Linked DNA regions of Homo sapiens. The protein of the gene in region 2 interacts with the protein of the main gene of each other region in a biochemical or structural test. Each region holds a gene or a part of one and is shown on either strand. Other genes may lie near its edges. The genes, in order: KAZN and TRPV4.

Region 1 (10,892 bases), on a different chromosome or scaffold from region 2:
ACTCCGTCTGTGGAGAGGGAGGGTAACTCCCCAAGGACTGTCTCTTGGAGGGGGATGAGGAGGGCACACAGGACAGATATGATCCAGAAAACAGAGAGCAGGAAGCTCTCACAGCCACTCCTGAGGCTCAAAAGGCTCCTGGCATATACATATTTCACACGTGCTCAGTGTTTTCTGGGCATCTGGGTGTCTGGACCGGTGAGTCTCCAACTTCATGACGCATCAGATTCTCCTGGGCAGCTTGTTGTAAATGCAGATATCGAGACACTGGGCACCACACCAGGGATTCTGGTTGATCAGGGGTGGGGCCTGGGCTTCTGCATTTTCACAAGCAGCTTCTGAGAATTCCATGTCATGTGGTCTTCATCTTCGCTTCGGGAAACACTGAAGACCAGAGGCTTGTGGCTAGAGCCTAGGAAGGGACACCGTTTGCAGGAAGTGGCCTTCAACATTGGCTGCAGGGAGCAGGACCCCATTCGTGGCTCTCTCTCTGGCTCCTGCAAGCAGCCACTTGCCAACCCAAAGAAGCATGAGAGTTTCTCAGGGCACTGACTCCAGGGTCAAGAAGTTCATCACTCACTGGCTTCCCTTTCAGCCTTCCCCCTTTCCACCTTGTCCCACGTACGGATTCCTGGAATCCAGGATTTATCACTCAGCCTTACCAGGTGGAATGCATGAATGCCGCCTCTGGTCTCTGAGCTAGGCAGAAACGATGCTTCTGATAGGATAGGAGAGAAAACTGGGCTTTATGTGGGAGTATCTGAGTCCTGGCCCCCAGCTTATCCACTCAACAAGTATGTGCTGAGCACTGAAGGGATAAGAGGTGGAAGGAAGTGCAGGCAGTTTTGTGATGCTTGGACAGATCTCTTAACTTCAGTGTCTTCATCTGCCATGTGCAGATACCAGTACCCTCTCTACCCAACGGAGTTGTCGCAAGAATAAAATAAGAGAACTGTGAAAGTGCTTTGCAAAATTAAGATGTGACTAGAATTCCTGGAGAAGACTGAATGAATATGAGAAGGGTTTTAATGAGAGTAGCGAGAATATTTGTGGATATGAATTTGTAGGGGACAAGGAAGATGAATTTGTTCAATCAACCACAAACTCTTTGGAGAAGCATCTATCACACCAGACAGGGGGAGCAGAAAGCAGAATGGGATATAAACCCTGCCTTCCTGAGGCTCACGGTCTGGCTCATTGGGTACATGCGGGGGAGGGACGGAGTAGTTTTAGCCAGGGCATTTTACTGCATGCAATAGAAATAATCAAATTAGCTCAAGAAAAGGGCATTTATTCTTGGGAATTCCATGGAATCCAAGACAAAGAAGAATAAGCAGGATTGTTTTGGAAACCCCAGGAGTTTAAAGACCTTCACCCCAGGGAGCCAAACTCTTGGGGACTTATCTCTCAAATCCTTCAGTCTGTATTTCAAATTCCCAAATAAATAAACAGAACAATAACCAATGGCCATATACGCTATGAAATAAGTAAATGTTGAATGTTAAATCTGAGGGATGAAAAGGAATCAGATGCAGAGAGCCAGGGGGAGAATGTTCCAGGGAGAGGCAAGGGAAAAGGCAAAGACCTTGAGGTCAGAAACAATTAAGTGGCAAGAGAGTGGTGAGCAAGTGGTGTGGTGCAAGAAGTCAGTGGCCAGTTTATGCAAGGCTGTGGGTGTAATTTAGGAAGTGCCACGTGACACACATCAGTGGAAAGATGGGCCATTTTCTGAAGACCCTGGTTAAATTCTTCCCAGCCCCTTCACTGACAAAGCTGCGTGGTTCATTCCTAAATCTGGGGTCTCTCTTTCTCTGTCTGTAAATAAGGAGGGCACTAGAGTAGACAATCCCCATTGCCTTCTAGGACCAAATAGCGTCATTCAATCATAGAGTAGGGCAACCATATATACTGGGTTTCCTGGGACAATTCCTATGTATGCCACTTGTTTTAGCTTAATTCAATTACTCATTGCGCCCTCTTTTGCTCTCAGCAGCATCCCAGTCTTGACGTTATATTATGAGGTCACTCTATTTCTGGGAAAAGGGAGGTGCATACGGCTGTGCTGTCAGCAATGGGTTAGGCCCTTAGCCTTGATTCTTGATAGGAATTTCCTTTCTCTGAGCTACAGGGAAGCTGGTTTTGCAGACTTTTCAAAATACCCAGGCAAGCTTTGATGGGCAACAAACACACACGGCACAGTTGGCTTATTCTGCTCAGAAAGATCAGACAATGTACGTAGAGGCTGGTGACCACATATGAGCCGAGGCCTGGACCTTGGATGGGGTTGGGCTGGTTGAGAGTGATAGCAGCAGTGACAGTGGAAAAATGATAGCAAGTCCCTATGAAGTGGACCCATTTTCTGTCTTGGTTCTTAACATCAGCCTACTGGGGTGTGAGATTGGGACTATTTGGGGAACACGCAAAAGGGGGAACCCTGAAACAGAACCCACAGTACTGCCAAATTCTCATAGCTGTGAATCCCATGGAGAGACAGCTGTGGATGACAGACTTCTCTGGAATCCTTCTCCCAACAGTTTGCAGGTGTGTCCCAGGACACCGGCGGTAAACGCCTATCAGCCCCCATAGACAGGCAAATGGGCTTGCAGGAGGGGGTTAGGCCAGTGGGAGGGGACACAGATTCCGCTGACCAACTGGACCAACCAAGGCACTTAGAACTGCTTGGTGTAACTTTGGGAGGCCAAGGCAGGTGGATCACAAGGTCATGAGTTCAAGAGCAGTCTGGCCAAGATGGTGAAACCCCGTCTCTACTAAAAATACAAAAATTAGCCAGGGGTGGTGGTGGGCACCTGTAACCCCAGCTACTCGGGAGGCTGAGGCAGAGAATTGCTTGAACCCGGGAGGCAGAGGTTGCAGTGAGCCAAGATCACACCACTATGCTCCAGCCTGGGAGACAGACCAAGACTCCATCTCAAAAAAAAAAAGAACTGCTTAGTATATCTGCAAACCAGGATTCAGTTCTTTGTAGTCTTTCAGTTACCTTATGGGGGGGCAGCATCAAAACTACAGAGCTGTGTGGGTCTTGAAAAGGGGGATGCCGTGGTGCAGCCATTGTGGAAAACATATTAGCTGTTCCTTGAAAAGTTAAACATAGCAACCGTTTTGTTCCTTGAGGTCACCTCCGGAGGAGCGGTGGTAAAGCCTGGGGATAAGAAACGTAGACCCGGCCGAGCGCTGTGGCTCACGCCTGCAATCCCAGCACTTTGGGAGGCCGAGGCAGGTGGATTGCTTGAGGTCAGGAGTTCGAGACCAACCTGGCCAACCTGGTGAAACCCTGTCTCTACTAAAAATACAAAAAAAAATTAGAGGGGTGTGGAGGCCTGCACCTGTAATCGCAACTACTCAGGAGGCTGAGGCAGACAATCCCTTGAACCCAGGAGGCGGAGGTTGCAGTGAGCTGAGATGGCGCCACTGCACTCCAGCCTGGGCGACAGAGCAAGACTGCGTCTCAAAAAAAAAAAAAAAAAAGAAAAAGAAAAAGAAAGAAAAAAGAAAGGTAGACCTTTTTGGTTTAAATCAAGTATACCCGCAGAGGCTAATTGATTGCAGACTTTCTATCTAAGATCTAGTCCTTTGGTGTGTGGGTGAACATAAGGACACACAACTGGAAAAAGCCCCTTTTTTTCATGTTAGGAAAAAAAACTCTCAAAAAATAAAATTCTTAAAATCCTAGGAGGCACCCCAGGAGTTTCTAAAGCAGCTTCTTGAAACCTCAAAAATAGAGGGATGAGAAGGGGCTCAAGGAATGAGTCTTTTCTTTTCTCCTTATTAGATTTTTTTGTTTTGATTTGATTTGAAGATTCCGGTGTGTGGGAATAATCTCACTGAAGAGCAAAATGAGTAACACTGGGTCACTTTGTTTACTACACAAACACACTCACACGCATTCATTTACAGAACACTTACTACGGGCTAGGGCGGCAAGGACGCAAAGATGAATGACATAAAAAGCCGGATAACCCTCCTTCCCCCACCCACAAGTTCCCAGTGAAGTGGGAGAGAGACATATAAACAGATAAATTACTGTTTCTTCTGCTGAGTGCTATACCAGAGGTGTGAGTGCACGCACACGTGTGCGCACACACACACACACACACACACACACACGGCCCTCTAAATAGAGCTACTCTTAACTGTTTGCTCAGAAGCCCTAGTTCCAAAACATTCCCATCCTCTCTATTTGTGTATTTGCATATATGACTTTTTGATTGAGGTAAAATTTACATAACATGAAATTAAGCCCTTTAAAGTGAACAATTCAATGGCACTTAGTACATTCACCGTGTTGTGCCACCACCACCTCTGTCTAGTTCTAAAACATTTTCATCAGTCAGCACAAAGTAACACCCGGCACCTATTAAGCAGTTACTTCTCATTCTTCCCTCCCCACAGCCCCTGACAAACACCAATCTGCTTCCTGTTTCATGGATTTATTTATTCTGGATATTTCATATAAATTGAATCGTATAATATGTGACCTTCTATGTCGGGCTTCTTTCAACTAACATAATGTTTTGGAGCTTCATCCACGTAGTAGTAGCATGTATCAGTACTCTTCACGGCTGAGTAATATTCCATTGCATACTGCAATTTGTTCATCCAATCATCTGTTGATGGACATTTGGGTTATTTCTGCCTTCTGGCTACTAATGAACAGTGCTGCTATGAACATTCATGTACAAATTTTTGTTTGGATATTTGTTTTGGACATATACCTAGGAGTGGATTTGCTGGGTCGTATGGTAATCCTATGTTTAACTGTTCAAGGAACTGCTAATATGTTTTCCACAATGGCTGCACCACGGCATCCCCCTTTTCAAGACCCACACAGCTCTGTAGTTTTGATGCTCTCCCCATAACGTAACTGAAAGACTGCAAAGAACTGAATCCTGGTTTGCAGATACACTAAGCAGTTCTAAGTGCCTTGGTTGGTCCAGTTGGTAAGAACTTGTGTTAATGAGGTTAAGGTCAGGGTTCGATCCCCGAACTGACCCATTAGCTGAGCAGAGCGGACAGAGTGAAGAATTGTGTCTTCCTGCCACATGCTCCACCATCAAATCCTGCCCTCTTGCAAAAGCTTGTTAGTGGTCACAGGGGAATGGAGCAAGACTGTTTTTATGGTTCCACAGAAAAGGGGGGAGAAATCTATCATCCAAGGCCTCCTGAAGGCGCAGCAGGAGGAACTTGCAATCAGATGATTACTTTCTTCCAGTCCCGCTGTCACCTGGTTTCTGCGGGCCCCTTAAGTAAATTGCTTAACCCTATGCAGAGCCTCAGTTTCCTTATCCCTAAAATGGGAATAATAATCCTCACTCACAAGAGATAAGAATGCATATAAAAGCACTCTACACGCAGTTTTTGCTTGGTTCTTATGGGCTTCCTGTAAGAACCTGAAGGGTGGGCAGCCTCATTTTTCCTCGCAGCACCCCACTGGCTTCTGCAATCTGCTCTTTGCTGCTCTCCGGAGGTTGACTGAGCTGGAATGATGGCGCCCTGTTGACCAGAGGGTTGCTGGCTGTTTTAAATTGTCCTATTTGCATGGAATGAAGTTTGCTATGGTAACAAGGTCTGGTGGCTGGAATCCAGGGCCCCAGTGAAAAATGCAAAGCCTGTGGTCTGGGAGAGAAAGAGGAGCTGGAGAGGGCATATCAACGTCAGGTTACCTCAGTTCTTCTGTGAAGAGGGGATGGGTAAACTGAGGCAGCAGGGCTCAACTCTTCTGCTCCCAGTAGAAGAAAGGGAAGAAGCCCCATCGACGCCTTCCTTCTTATCTCTCAACCTCATCTCTGTCCCCGCCAATATTCAGCCCGGCTAAGAAGCTTAGGAGCTGGCTAAGGCTGCTCCTCCACCTGGATGCACACACAGGGCTAGGGCTGTGGAGAGGCGGGAGCACCAGCGGCCCACGCCGAGGAAGATAGGCGCTCCCTCCTGGGGTGGGCAGCGCAGGTCTGGCCTGCGGGTGGGGGGTGGAGAGTGAGAGGCACGCGGGGCACCAGCTCAGCTCCCCTCTGGGGATTTCGTACTCGCAGTTTAAGGAACCGGTGGAGCACGAACTCCACTCCTGAGCTGGCGCAAGCGTCTCCCTTCCATGGAGATCCACCCCGGCTCCCCTCTGAGGCCCCCTTTCCAAGCACCCTCTCTTCCGAGCACCCAGCACCTCCCCAACCTTAGCACGGCTCGGGGCACCAGTTCTCCAGGGCGGGGGCTGCCCCACCGCTCAAGGGAGGGGACAGAGGGCCGGCCTCGGTCCAGGCGACCCCTGCCCCTCGCCAGGGGCGCCACCTTGGCCCCCTCCCGACTGCCGTCCGCCGCCTCCGCCCCCCCGGGGGGTGTGTCTCCGAAGTACGGGGGCGCGGGAGGCCAAGGGTGCCCCCAGCCTCCGACCGAGACCCCCTCCCGAGCCGGCGGCGAATGGTAGGCTCCATTTAAAGAGTGCCTGGTGGCGCGCGGTGTCCTTCTTGGAGCAGCTCTCGGCGCCCGCCCGCCGGGGTCTCGGCGATCGCTGCTCCTCCTCCTCCTTCTCCTCCTCTTTTTTCTCCTCCGCCTCCTCCCCCCGCCGCCTCGCCACCGCCGCGGCTAGGGCTGGAGGCGCCGCTGTCATTCCTGTGCCGGAGGAACCGGCGCTGCCGGTGCCTGGGGGTCGGGGCGCGGGCGAAGCCGGGCCGCGGAGGACACAACAGGTAGAGCCGGGGGTGCCCGGCCGCGCGCCCCCCGCGCATCATGCAGCTCTTTGTCACCTCTCTCGCCCCCAGGCCAAAATCCTGAGCATGATGGAAGACAATAAGCAGCTCGCGCTCCGCATCGATGGGGCGGTCCAGTCGGCCAGCCAGGAGGTGACCAACCTGCGAGCCGAACTCACGGCCACCAACCGGAGACTGGCGGAACTGAGCGGCGGCGGCGGCCCCGGCCCGGGCCCGGGAGCCGCGGCCAGCGCCTCGGCGGCGGGGGACTCGGCGGCGACGAACATGGAGAACCCCCAGCTTGGAGCGCAAGGTAGGATCGCCCCGGCGCCCAGGGCGGAGGAAGGCGAGCAGAGCACGCCCGGCCTCGGAGGTGGCCGGGGACCCGGGGTCCCCCACACCCGGGGCGAAATCGCTTTGCATTCTGGCTTGTAACCCTTTCCGCCCGGCGGTGGCCACCGCTGCTCTCCGGCTGGGAGTTGCAGGCTGCTGTCATTCACGAAAACCCGAGCGCAGTGTGCACGGGGTCACACGGTCACACCGGCCCCGGCCAGCCTGAGCGAGGCGCAGCCGGCGGGTCCCTTCCGGCATCAGAAAGTGCCCTTTCCGTGGCACCAGCCCCCTAGCTCCGTGCAAACTTTTCATGCCGGGGCCTTTTCCCCACCCCCCGCAGGGGTGAATGGCACAGTTCCCCCCACTTCCTTAGGCTCCTTCCCAGAGAGAGCTCCGGGCTCTGCCGCCGTGGTTGGGATAGAGGATTGCACTGCTGTGCACTTTTCTCCGCGGATGCCAAATCCCTTGGCTCAGTTGCATCTGGACTTTATTTTCTTCTCATTTGAGGTCTCTCAGGCATTGGAATCTATAGATGCAACAGTAGATGCTCAGCTCAGCAGGGAGTTTAAATTTCCGCAAATATAAACACCGAGAGCACTTTCCAGGGGGATACTGTAGACCTCAAAGGTTGAGCGGTAGAGAAATGAAGGCTTAGGGTGGTGGGCTGCAGGGAGCCCGTTTGAAGGGACTCTGCGGTTTAGAGAAGAGGAAGAAAAAGACAGTTGGTTTGTGTTCACATTGACAGAGATTAAGCTCTGAAACCCCCTGCAAGACATAAAGGCGGATGGGGCATTCCCTAAAATGTACTGTTTGGTTTCTGTGACTTAGAAAGTAAAAGGGTAAGCAGGCTTTGGGGGATTTTTTTTTTCTTTTTGCCTAATTGCCCTTTAAGAAACAGTATCACTGGTTATTAATATCATTTGAATTGCAAATTAAACTGCTGAAATCCAGAACAGGACAGAAACAAATCTCCAGTCCATGAGGTCCACTTGTCTAAATATGTCACTTGAAGTGCAAGGTACCAATTGCTCAGTGGCTCAAAATGATTTTCTGGTTCTGTTGTCATTTCAAGAGCTTCTCTTGAGGGTTGAGAGAGTCTGTTTTCCTAAGAATCTGGTTCTCTCCATCAGTCTCTGTTTCCACCTTATCTTCCTGGGAAGGTGTGCTTTCTTTGAGGTGAGATGTGAAGCCTGCCCACGTGCAGTTTTATGTCGAATTCCAAGTCAGATCTTAACTTGGTACTCCCGGAGCCTGTTGGAAGTCTTAGGAATTGGGGGGAGTACTTTGGTAAGGAAGTAGCCATGACGTAATGGTGAGAAGGTGTTGTGGTCCTAGTGCTTGCTGCAAGCTTGACATGTGGTTATTCTTGTCATCCTTGCAATGTCATTGTGTGCGAAAGAACATTCTCCACTGGAACCTGTGCAAAAAAAAAAAAAAAAAAAAAAGACAGACTGCAAGGTAATGCTTCACTTTTTATAGGCAGAGGCTCTGCTAACATTAAAGAAATAGCTAAGAACTGGCATTTTGCTAAGAATCAAAAGCTGTATAGTAAAGGACACTGAACAATGCTCGTTTATTTCCCACTGTCTGCCCCTTTCTCCGCGAAGGAAAAGTTAAGTGGCTTTTTATCTGAGTCCTGGGTCTGGTTGTAGACTGGGCAGGCTAAGGCAGTCAACGCAGTAATGATGTCCACATGCTCAACTTGAAAACTGACATACTCGCGGATGGTTAAATTGTTGTAGTGGAGCAACAGGGGGCTGATTCCTTGTTCTTTTTTCCTACACAAATGCACAGGGCTGTGGAAATGAAAATGGCTTTTGGATCTCTTGGATATCCTTAAAAACACATAAAACCAGCAGCTCCCATACGCTCTCAGGACTGTGCCTGCCCATGTCAGTGGCTGGCTGTGGGTGGTAGGATGAAGGGTGGTCTTGATTTCTCCTCTTTGTACATTGGTATGTCTCAAAATCTTTCCTAGGGGCACTTTGTGATTTTTATAATCAGAAAATAAAATGTTCAAAGGTTTAAACTCTACTTGATTGTTGGCCGCATAACCGTCTAAACTGATATGCATTTCAACAGATGTGATGGTTGAAAAGAAAACAAGCCCCCGTATAAGTTCAGTGGGGTATCATTTACTTGTCTGTAGCAACAGTACTTGATACATTATTTAGCCTCTGTAAGTTTGGGGGATTTTTTTTTTTTGATGGGGGCGGGAGTTGTTTTTGTTTGTTTTTGTTTTTTTCATAGCCTGTGGCAGCATCCTGCTAGCACAGAAACCCTCTGCAGAGGTGGTCTGGTAGTTTCTTTTGCCATTGCTTTCATTATCCTAAAAAGAAGCCTTGAGTTCTCACACAAGTTAATTTTAAAGTGCAATTGATTGGGTTCCACTTGATTCTTCGTAATACACCTCCAGGGAGGCTCCCAGAGGCTCAGCTCCTCAGGGTTTCTGACTGTTCTTCCAAATTAGTCTTGTGTTTTCATTTTGTCTGTGTTGGTGCAGTTCAATGGGCCCAGACCCTAAGAGTGTTTAAGTGCTATTGAGTTATCAGTTTTCAAATCAAGGTTTTGAATAAAACGAGTATCTTTGCATTTCAAAATGCAACCGTGTAAGTCATCTTTTAACGAAAGGGCATTATGCACATATTAAATGCATGCTAATGTAACTTTAACAATATTAGTACAAATGGTTTTGGGAAAGAGTCACCTTTTGCTTCCTCTGCCAAGAGACTGTTAGATTCATTTTCAAATGTTTTTGTTTTTGTTTTTTAAATTCTTTTTTTAAATGAATGAAGCAAACTCATCAATCCATCATTGGCTGTTTTGTTCCAGGGATGACAACGGGCAGTAGGTAGGTTGGTATCCCCTTTTGATGAAGAAAATTTGGGTTTTCCTAGCGGGTTAATGCAGTGTGTCATTTAAACAAAATATTAACTTGGTTGGTACTCCCTGTGAGCTGGCATGGTTGCTATGTAACAGAATCTAGAAAGTGAACTGCTGAAAATCTGGGCTTTCGGCACTTCGGAGGATATTCTTTCGGAATCTGTGTTGAAAGAATTCCTGGCAGCCAGCCCATCTTGTCTCTCCCTCCTGCAACTGAGTTGGATAATCCTTAATGAGAATGCTGGCGTACAGTGCAGAGGGCGTCCGTGCAGGGTGACACATTTCAGAGCTCCAGAGGCTGCCTTTTGGGTCGGTGGGGTCACGGCAGCCTTTGACAGGTGGACAGAAGGAGGCTTGGAAAGAACAGAGCCAAGCATTTGTTCCAATTCATCTTGTTGTTGGTAGCCAGAGAAGGGATTTGTTTAAAGTAACATTTCTAAGCTGTTTTCCTCAGCATAACATCTCTGGGAAAATGTGTTTAAAATGCTTGCTGTTCTTTGAGGGGAAAATGTAGCAGTTTGTTTCTCTGAAAAAGTTTTATCAGCTGATGAATGACTAATATTAGATTCAGTTGGTTGCTTTGCTATGCATAGAACAAAACAATTAAGTGCTATGGTACCCAATTCAAATAGGTGTTAACTGTATATAACAAAATACTTAATGCCCAGTAGGATGTATGCCTACTGTCATTAGTTTTCTTTGTTAAAGAAATAATTGTATTTGTATTCCTATGCAAGTGGACGTGCTGATAGCATCTTTCTTTGGTGTGGAGGACTTCCTGCCTACTGCATTTGTTAGAAGGGGATGGAGGCAAGGGTCGGTTTCCTGTACCTTTGTACATTTCCATAAATGCGTGCAAGTTGTATTTTTCTCTCCAGGCATTAAAATAGGCTGTTACTTAAGGCCTGACAGCTCTCATCTACCATTACTACAACACTGGAAACTCTTTCGTGAAGTATAAATTACCTTTGGAGTGAA
Region 2 (10,943 bases):
CCTCCTGAGTAGCTGGGACTACAGGCACCCGCCACCACGCCCGGCTAATTTTTTGTATTTTTTTAGTACAGACGGGGTTTCATGGTGTTAGCCAGGATGGTCTCGATCTCCTGACCTCGTGATCCGCCTGCCTCAGCCTCCCAAAGTGCTGGGATTATAGGCGTGAGCCACTACGCCCGGCCCTCAGCTGCCCTATTAAGGGATCGTAATAGGGTCGTTGTGAGAGGTATATACCTTGAGTCAAGTGCCTGGCATAAAGAAAGCCTCAATAAACAGCAGATTGCACAACAGATGGCTTCTCTCTGAGAATCCCGGATTCAAAGGCGGTGGAGGTCTCTGGCTCCGTCCCCATGCCCCAACTTGCGGAGGGTGGAAAAAGGGGCCCATCCTCGGGGTTACCCGCGGCTTTGCCTGATCTCATGGAAACCCTGGCAAACATTTGTCAAATCCCATCCTCCTGATTACGTGACCAAGGAAAGCTGCTTAAATCTGGGGGCAAGTTTGGGCATGCAAACCTGCTCCGCCCCAGCGGGGAGGAATCCAGGGAGCTGGTTTCTCCCGGTTCCCTCCCTTCTGGAATCAATTCATTCCACCAGGCATCAATGCAGTGGCACCTGTTTGCAGGGCACAGGGGAGACATAAAAGTGTGGAACCTCAGAGAACTCGCAGTCCAGGAGGGAAGGCTGATGGCTCTCTCTGCCTCCAGGCCTTTGCCTAGGCTGTTCCCTCCGCCTGGAATGCCCTTCCCTTCGCTGGCTGGCTCCCACTTACTCCTCAGGCCTCATGTTAAAGGGCACTTCCTCTGAAAAGCCCTCCTGTTTCCCCTGCTCTTTACTCTTAGAGTAACATGTGCCTTCCTTTACAGCACTTCCCACGATTAAACTTTTCTATATATGTATTTTTTTTTTCAAGAGAGTCTCGCTCTGTCCCCCAGGTTGGAGTGCAGTGGCATGATCTCAGCTCACTGCAACCTCCGCCTCCTGGGTTCAAGCAATTCTCGTGCCTCAGCCTCCTCGAGTAGCTGGGATTACAGGCATGCACCACAACACCCGGCTAATTTTTCGTATTTTTAGTAGAGGCAGGGTTTTGCCATGTTGGTCAGTCTGGTCTTGAACCCCTGACCTCAGATGATCCACCTGCCTCAGCCTCCCAAAATGTTGGGATTATAGGTGTGAGCCACCGCACCCGGCCTATATATTATTCTTTGATTCATCTTCTCTCTTCACCTCCAGAGTTTTAGTTCCATGTGGTAGGGACTATTTCGTGTCCCCTGTGTCCCCAGCATTCAGCATGGTGCTGAAGCAAAATGAGGTGTCAATGAATATTTGGTTTTTTTAGGCTGTAAGATCAGGGACCTGAAGTTCCAGGCAGGGTTGCAGAGCAAGGGCAGCCAGAATCCTGATGGGGAGGGGGAAAGGCTGTGAGGAGGAGGAGGAGGAAGATAAAGGGCAGAGGAGGTGTCAAGGACAAAGGTGTAGAGGGGAAAGTGCAGGGTGCACAGAGGAATGGTGTGGCCTGGGGCACAGGGAGAAGGAAAGCAGAAGAGATGGGTGAGTGGGTGGGCAGTGGGGAGGTGGGTGGGGGTTGGAATCCATGGGTAGGAAGGAGCCCACAGAGAAGGTGCTCAGGCTCCCAGACAGACCCAGTGTGCTTCTACCTCCCTCCACCCTGGGGCTCCTTAGCCAATTTGGGGGCCCCCACTTCCTGTGGTACCCTCAAATAAACACAACTGTGAGTGCCTGCCATTCCAAATCAGTCTTGCCGGGGACATGTGGATAGGAAGGTACTAGGAAGACAAGGACTCTGAGCTTTGCTGTTACTAGAGAGAAAATCCCAGACCTGTCCACCCCCTCCCCACCTTCCAGGTAAGAAAACTGAGGCTCAGAGAGGCGAAGTCATTTGTCTGGCATTGCCTTGCTCCAGAAAGGGGGAGGCAGGATTAGAACCCATGCATCCCCGGGACCTGCGCCTTTGATGGACACTTTACAAAGACAAGGGAACTCTGGGAGGGAGAAGCTGGAGAAAGAATGGAGTGGGGGATGGGTCGCAGTCCCTGACGAACCACCAGTTCACCAGCTCTGGGCAAGTCACCTGGCCTGCCCATGCCTCGGTTTCCTCACCTGAAAAATGGCAATGATCCTAGCACCTACCCCAAGGGAACTGTCGTGAGGGTTACATGAGATAAAGCATGCAAAACACTGAGCCCAGTGCCTGGTACAGAGCATGCATTCAGTCAAGCATGGCTGCTGTTGGAATCATCAGTATCAGTGTACTATTTATTAGTATCATTAGGGGAACAGATGAACAAAAGGACTGAGGACCAAGGAAGGCAATGACTCCTAGAGAAGGCAGAGCGGCCAGATCCAGAGCCTTGGAGGTAGACTCTGGCAGCCACCTCGAAGTGGCGGCTGCTGGGAACAGCCGGCTGGGAGCTCAACTCCTTGGCCAGGCGAAACCTACTGCCTGCCAGGCTACCCCACGGCTCCCAGGCACTTGGCAGGCGGCAGCAGTAGGGGGGCATCATGCCATGCCCAGCACCTTCCCTGGCCAGCCTGTATTTACCTAGCAGGTCTCGGCCCAGCCCGCTTCCTGTTTGCTGCACAGTGGCCGCCTGTCCAGGACAGACAGAGCCCCAGTGTCCTGCTGGGCCCCCACCCCATGCACTCACACCACCCAGGCAGGGCAGGTCTGGGGTGACTCACCGCGCCCCACGGAGGGCAAGGCCAGCGTGGCCACGGCAGTCATTTGGTCATTCTGCAAGCCCTTGGCTGGAGGGAGGCCGGCTGACAGCACACACAGATGCCCCTCTGAGCTTTCACAGGGACCAAGTCATTTCCAAGGGTCCCGGCCCCTGGGTAGGAGCCACCAAGAAGCGGTGTGGCTTAATGGTTAAGAGCATGCACCTTGTAGACACAAAAGGCCACATATTGCAGGATTCCATTTATATGAAATGCCCAGAACAGGCAAATCCACAGAGACAGAAAGCAGATTAGTTGTTGCCAGGGGCTGGGAGTGGGGAGTGGTGACTGCTAATGGGTACAGAGTCCTTTTTTGGGGTGATGAAAATGTTCTGGAATGAGATAGTGCTGATGTCTGTACAACTCTGAATACACTAAGAAACCAACTGAATTGTACGTTTTAAAAGACTGAGTTATGAGTATGTGAATTACATCTAAATGACCCTTCCAGGCTTAGTGACCTCAGGCAGGTCACTTCCCTCCCAGAACCTCAGTTTCCTTGTTGCAACATGGGAATGTCATGGAGATTAAGCACACATAAAGGGTTTCTTTTTTTTCTTTCTTGTGTGTGTGTGTGTGTGTGCGCATGTGTGTGTGACAGAGAGAGACAGGATCTTGCTCTGTCACCCAGGCTAGAGTATAAGTGGCACAATCTTGGCTCACTGCAACCTCCGTCTCCCAGGTTCAAGCAATCCTCCTGCCTCAGCCTCCCAAGTAGCTGGGATTACAGGTGCCCACCGCTGCGCCAGCTAATTTTTGTATTTTTAGTAGAGACGGGGTTTCACCATGTTGGCCAGGCTGGTCTCGAACTCCTGACCTCAGGTGATCCGACCGCCTCGGCCTCTCAAAATGCTGGGATTACAGGCGTCGGCCACCGTGCCCAGCCACATAAAGGGTTTCAAACAAGGTCTGGCACGTAGTAGGAGCTCAAGGATACAAAGTCACTACCCCAGGAGGCTCCAGGTCCTTCTTCCCTTATCTCGCTTCCTTCCCATCAGAGCATAGCCCCAGGATTCCACCCTCTCAGCCAGCCCTGCTTGAGAACATGCTACTCAGCTCCAGCCCAGGAGGAGGGAGGCATCAAATTCTTAGTCCGGCCGGGCGCAGTGGCTCACGCCTGTAATCCCAGCACTTTGGGAGACCGAGGTGGGCGGATCACTTGAGGTCAGAAGTTCAAGACCAGACTGGCCAACATGGTGAAACCCCATCTCTACCAAAAATACAAAAATTAGCCGGGTGTGGTAGCATGCACCTGTAATCCCAGCTACTCGGGAGGCTGAGGCATGAGAATCTCTTGAACCCAGGAGGCAGAGATTGCAGTGAGCAGAGATAGCACCACTGCACTCCAGCGGGGGCGACAAGAGCGAGACTCCATCTCAACAAAACAAAACCTTAGGCCCGCCTTCTCTCTGGCCTAGCCCCTCTCCTAGAGGATGGTCACAGCCACGGAGAACTCCAGAGAGGATTCTATAGTCTGAGAACGTTGCCTGATCAATGCTTTACATCTCATCTGCCACTCACTGGCTGTATGGTCTTGCACAAGTCACATCTCATCTCTGGGCCTTGGTTTCCTTATCTGTAAAATGGGAGTAATAATTACTACGACCTGGGTGGGGTTAAGCCGTATTTGCTCCATAGTTATTTGGTGTATAGCACATTCATGCTTTAAACTAAAAAATAAGGCTGGGTGCAGTGGCTCACACCTGTAATCCCAACACTTTGGGAGGCCAAGGTGGGAGGATCGCTTGAGCCCAGGAGTTCGAGACCAGCCTGGGCAAAATGGTGAGATCCCATCTCTACAAAAAATAAATAAATTTATTTATTTTTTAAAATATTAAAAAATAAAATAACAGCTCCTACCCCAAAGAGCTATTGTGAGGATTAAATGTGATAATTCAAGCCTTCAGTGCAGTGCCCAACAAACACCAAGTGTTCAATGAACTTGAACTTATTTTTTAGTTTAAAGCATGAATGTACTGTATACCAAATAACTATGGAGCAAATACAGCTTAACCCCACCCAGGTCGTAGCAATTATTACCCCCATTTTACAGATAAGGATGTTCAATGGCTGCTTTGCCATTCTTGCTAACATTCCCTCAGTTTGCAGTGGGAGGTGGGGGATGATGACATTGAGGTCCAGGGAGGTCAGAACTGGGCAGGCACTGGAACCCAGACTTCCCGGCTCCAAAACCAGGGCTCGTGACTGCAGAGACCTCACCTTTGGAAAGGGTTTCCTCGCCACCTCATTTCCATCTTCTGTCACCTTTAGAAGGCTGTCAGGACAAGGGCTGCCTCCCAGCTGGGAGACTAAGGACCAGAAGGGACAGGACACTCGTCCATGCATACGTTCCTCTACCCCACTTCTAGGAGCAAAAGTCCCGAGTTTGCCAAATCAGAGGAGGGGGAAGAGGGCAGGTGCCCGTTATGAGTGGATGGGGCAGGAGTCGGGGAAGGGAGCCCAAGGCAGCAGAAAACCAGTTTGAGATCCTTCCTCTGTCCCAGCCCACCTCAACACCAGTCTGTGCCAACAGTAAGCTGCTGCCTCAGGGGTTAACTGCTTGGAATTATGACTGAGGCTAATGCCTGCAATGTACCATCAGTAATGCCTACCCTCCATGGCACACTTCACACAGCACCTCCCATTTGGTTGTTTTTTGTTTTGAGACAGGGTATGGCTTTGTCACCCAGGCTGGAGTGCAGTGGCACAATCATAGCTCACTGCAGCCTCGACCTCCCAGGCTCAAGCAATCCTCCCACCTCAGCCTCCCCAGAAGCTGGGACCACAGGCATGTACCACCATTCCTACTTTTAAAATTTATTTTTTGTAGAGATGGAGTCTCACTCTACTGCCCAGGTTAGTCTCCAATGCCCGGGCTCACGTGATCCACACACCTTGGCCTCCCAAAGTGTTGTGATTACAGGCGTGAACCACCATGGCTGGCCCCTTCTATCTATTTTAATCCAAATAATAACTATAGACATTAAATATTATTGTCTCCATTCCCAGATGTATAAAGTCAGTCCCGGGGGAAAGGAGGTAAGGGCTGACATTTATCCAATACCTATCATATGCTAAGCACTTTCACATTTCTCTCTCATTTGAGGTCGGTGTTATTGTTATCATTTCACAGATGAACAAACTGAAGATCAGAAAGAATGAGATTTAACTGAGTCCACAACGCTACAGGAAGTGAATGTGGCTAGACTTCCAACCATCTGCTTTTAAATCCATTTGAGTTCATTCATCCCTTTGGGGGCTACCATGCCCTCTCCCTAGGACCCCCCTTCTCAACGCCATATCCCTTGGAACTCAGCAGGACAAGATGGCACAGTGGTGACAGGCTTGGAGTCTGAATCTTGACTTTGCCATTTAGTAACTGCGTGGCCCCAGACGGATCACTTGACCTCTCCGAGCTTCAGTTTCCTCACCTGTAAAAGGGAGCTCATCACAGTTCCCACTGCTGGATTACTTGTCATTGTGGGTATCAGAGTCTCACAAAGTGGCCTCAAAGCACTGCGTGTGGAATGATGTCACTCGGACAAAAGCTCTAGGGCGGAGGGACTCCCTTCTGGTAACTGCTGAGGCCCAGATGCCTGGAACAGGTCCTGGCACATAGCAGCTGCTCAAGATGTATTTGCTGGATGAATGAATGAATGAATGAATGAACAGAGGAAAGGAGTGAAAGACGGGCTTAGTCATTCTCTCCAGGGCAGACAGGTCTCCAAAGCGAACCTCTGCCCAGCTAACTAATTAGCTTCCTCCCATCCATTTTTTAACAGACAGCTTACGGAGCACCTGCTATGTGTGGGGTTTTCTGGCCTATAAGACCAACACCTCTCATGAGGACAACTATCGTGAGCCCATTTTATAGATGAAGAAATTGAGGCTCAACAAGACCAGGACACTCACTCAAGCACACTTGGTCTCAGAGCCAGAGCCTGTATCTGAGCAGGTGCTTCCTTCTGATGCCCTGCCTGGCTGGCTTGTCCAGTCACTCATTCCTTCCTTCATTCATCCCTTCACTCTATCTACAGGTATTCCTGAGCCCCTCCTGTGTGCCAAGCAGGGACAGGAGTGAGCCAGACCCATGGGTCAGTCAACCCCATGCCCCCTGTCCCACCCTCACCTGCTGGGGTCTCAGCCCAAAGCCCATGGAACCCACCCTCCATAAACACACACACACACACACACTACACACAAATACATATACACATTACACACATATACACATACATACACACAATATACACACATACATACATATACACGCAAACATACACACACATACACACATGCACACATAGACATTCACATACACACATACACATGTATATACATACACATATGCACACACATACACACAGACATACATATACACACATACACACATATATACACAAACATACACATAAACATATAGTCATACATATACACACATACACATATATACACATATACACATACACATATAGACATACATATACACACATACACATACACACACAGACACACATACGCACATACACACGCACATCAATATACACACACATACACACGTACACAAACACACACACAGGGAATGGTCCCAGAAGGTGGCCAGCCCACTCGGTCAACCGGGTGGAACCCAGGCCACTCCACCCTCAGGGGAAAACGGGCGCCTGGTGAGACTGAGGAGCTCTTTGTGCAAGGGGCAGGGTGGGTGGACAAGAGGGGCTGCTGTTACTCACTAACCAAAGAAATAGAAGGATATTCCCGTTTGGTCAATGGCCCGCCTGTCTGTCCCCTGAGCCCCCGCCTCCTTCTGTGGCCTTTCCAATGCCCTGACCTCATCTGGAGACCGGCAAGGGCTTCCTGTGCGCCTGGTGTGGTCTCGTGTGATCCTCCCTCACCGATGAGGAAACATGCTCAGAGAAGTGATGTAACCTCCTTGGGGTCACACAGCCGGCAGTGGCCAGGGCTCGGGGCAGAAAGGGGAAACCAATGCTCAGGAAGGGGCTAGGGGTGGGAAGGAAGTCAGAGTCACATTGAAAGTGAGGCCCTGTCCCTTCCTCATTCCTGTCCGGCCACTGGGGTGCCAGCTCATGGGCTGCAAGGGCACCCGAGGTTGAAGGAGCCCAGGCCAGAACAAGAGCAGCAGCCAGAATAACCCAAATCCCTCCTCAAGTTGGCAGAGCTCTGACCTCAGCAAAGCCCAGGAACAGAGAGCTTAAGCCACTTTCTGAGGTCACAGAGCAGCAACTGGCGGAGCTGGGAGGTAAGCTAAGGTGGCTCAGACGCCAAGGTGGGTGAGCCTAGCGTAGCTTTCCACGCAAGAAGCTAAGCTGGCCACTGGGCTTTTCGTGGACCCAAGGACACCAGTGTCACTCAGATCTGGCTTCCAGCTCCAGCTCTGCCATGAGCCAGCTGGGCATCCCTGGGTAAATTGCTTCCTCTCTGAGTCTCGATTTCCTCAGCTGTAAAATGGGGCTCAGCATTCCTGCCCCTGCCCACCCCCGGCAGTGGGGAAGCTGTGACACCATCAAAATGAACATCAGCCCTCACACCTGTAATCTGAGCACTTTGGGAGGCCAAGGCAGGAGGGTTACTTGAGCTCTGGAATTCCAGACCAACCTGGGCAACATAGTGAGACCCCTGTCTGAAAAAAACCTTTTTTTTTAATAAGCTGGGTGTGTCCCAACTACTTGGGAGGCTGAAGTAGGAGGATCTCTTGAGCCCAGGAGTTCGAGGCTGCTGTGAGCTATGATCACACCACTGCATTCCAGCCTGAGCAACAGACTGAGACCCTGTCTCTAAAAATAATAAATAAAAAAAAAAGTGAACAACAGGCAATAGATGCTGGTTTTAAACTAAACACTCAAGGTTGTGCTGAAGACTGTCCACAACCTCCCAGCAAGGCAGGCATTACCTTATCCCCATTGTCCAGATGAGGAAACTGAGGCCAAAGGAATAATGGAACTTATTGGAAGCTGGGATTTGAACCTGGGCAGCTGGGCTCCAGCCCTAGTTTTTAAGCATTAAATCAGGAAAGTAAAAAAAGTTGACAGCTCCTGGCACTCAGTCAATGCTCATAAATATTTCATTGCTGAAAACATATCATTATTTGCCCAAATGCAAGTCTAGCTTTGCCCCCAATACCTTCCACCCACCCACCTGGCATGGAGGGGCTCTCTGAGGATGTCTGGGGGATAAGCTGGAAGAAAACATGCCCTGGAATGGGCCTGGGGACAAGGGGAGCTGACACGGGCTGAGGCAGAAGAGCTGTGCTTCAGAGCCCCATCCACGTGCCTTGGGTCATCCCTGCAAAGTGGGATGAGAGTCCCTTTGACACAGGAGGAAATGGAAGCCCAGAGAGGCCAGGTGGCTTCCCTGAGCTCCTCCAGCGGGGAATAGCAGGCCTGTCTTAAACATGCGGATGCAGTTTAAGCCCAGGCCTGTCTGCAGTTCAGGCTCTTTGTTTGTTTTGAGACAGGATCTCTTGCTCTGGACTGCAGTGGCACAATCGCAGTTCACTGCAACCTCTCACTCCTGGGCTTAAGCGATCCTCCCACCTCAGCCTCTCAAGTAGCTGGCACTACAGGTGCGTGCTACCACGTTCGGCTAATTTTTGTATTTTTTCTAGAGACAGAGTTTCACCATGTTGCCCAGGCTGGTCTCAAACTCACGGGCTCGACCGATCCACCTGCCTTGGCCTCCCAGAGTGTTGGGATTACAGGTGTGGGCCACTGCACCCGGCCAACTCAGGTTCCTATCTCTGGACTGCAGAGTAGCTCCCCCATGACCCCAGGCACCCCAATGAGGGTCCAGACAAATGGGGACGGGCCACCTTACAGGTGAAGGGATGGATTTGCAATCACACAAATGGGATTCAGGTCCCAGCTCTGCCCCTTCTCAGCTGAGAGAACCCAGGCAAGAGATTTCACCCTCTAGACCTCATTCTGCCCTCTGAAAAATAGAGACAAAAATAGTTTTGTATCCAAATGTGCTGAGGGTGCTTGACTCAGTGCTTGGCACACAGTAAGTGCTCAATAAAGGCTTGCCACCATCATAATAGTTGTTAATGCAACCCAGGGTTGGCTAAAGCCAGACAGAACCTTGTACCCAGAGTTCATAACAGCAGCCACTTATCTCAAGAGATCGGAATTAATCTTTAACAGGTGAATTCTGCTCCAAATGGGCGATGTGGAGCATTCCAGAGGGCCCACTGGCATGAAATAAATGTTATCTTGGCTCCCCAGACCCTATCTGTGACAACAAGAGGAGCTGTTACCTGGGTCCCTATAATTTGGAGAACGGACTGGAGTGTCTTTCCCAAAGTCAAATGGGGGAAACTGAGGCAGACAGCAGGGTCAAGGGCCTGCATGGAGTAGAGACACCCACTTCATGTAGACCCCATCCCCCTAGGAACAGAGGAAGGAACTCAAAGGACTTTGACCATCTCAAAAGTATTTGTTCAGACAACCATGCCATAGATACTGACTGAGCACCTACTATGTGCCAGGCACATGAGGCTCAGTCTTGTGTGTTTCCTTCCCTCCTACATCTCCTTCCAGCTGCCGCTCTCCACTCAGAGCTTGGATGACTTCCCCAGCCTTGGGGCCAGCCTCTCTGTCTGAGCTCCTCCAATCTTTCCCACTCTGCAGCCACAGGGACCTTTCTAGAACAGACAAACAACCGTGTCACTCCCAGGCAGGACTTCTGGGCCTCTGGGTCTGATTTAGCTCCTGCCTGTCTGATCCCTCACCCTTTCCAGTCACGTCACAAACTCCAGACAAACAGAACTATTTCTCTGCTCTATAAACCCCAGGTGTAGCCACCTGGTAACAGGTAAAAGTCATATCTCTGCTAGTGCCATTCTCTTTGCCTGAATACTCTTTCCTCTACTTCTGCATTTATTCTTTAAGGTGCGGCTTAAACACTACCTTGACCAAGCCCTCGTGGGTCCTTCCTGGGCCAGTCCTCCTACCCTACGGCATTCTCCCCTGACCCCATCCATTCCACAGCATACATTTACTAAGCGTCGGCCATCCATGCACACCTTGCTAGATGCTCACAAGTCAGGTGTGGGAGCTCCTCCCCGGGGGGCCACAAGGGAAAATCCTTCTTGCCTTCACACGCCTCAGGCTACAGCGAAGCTGGGATTGGAAGCATCTCACTGCTCCAGTGCCCAGCCCAGAGCTGGCACAGGTGAGCTTGCAGAGAGCA

Evidence for each region.
Region 1: the proteins of TRPV4 (region 2) and KAZN interact in a test that uses a peptide from one of them, tested with the Homo sapiens proteins (one study listed by BioGRID).

What each region holds. Positions count from the first base shown.
Region 1 is NC_000001.11:14,592,213-14,603,104, forward strand, and holds the start of KAZN (kazrin), read left to right. Parts: upstream 1-6,472; 5' UTR 6,473-6,770; coding exon of another isoform or gene 6,771-6,785; coding exon 6,786-7,011; intron 7,012-10,892. UniProt on the Homo sapiens protein: Component of the cornified envelope of keratinocytes. May be involved in the interplay between adherens junctions and desmosomes. The function in the nucleus is not known.
Region 2 is NC_000012.12:109,820,641-109,831,583, forward strand, and holds part of TRPV4 (transient receptor potential cation channel subfamily V member 4), read right to left. Parts: intron 6,963-10,943; exon of another isoform or gene 6,170-6,962; intron 1-6,169. UniProt on the Homo sapiens protein: Non-selective calcium permeant cation channel involved in osmotic sensitivity and mechanosensitivity. Activation by exposure to hypotonicity within the physiological range exhibits an outward rectification.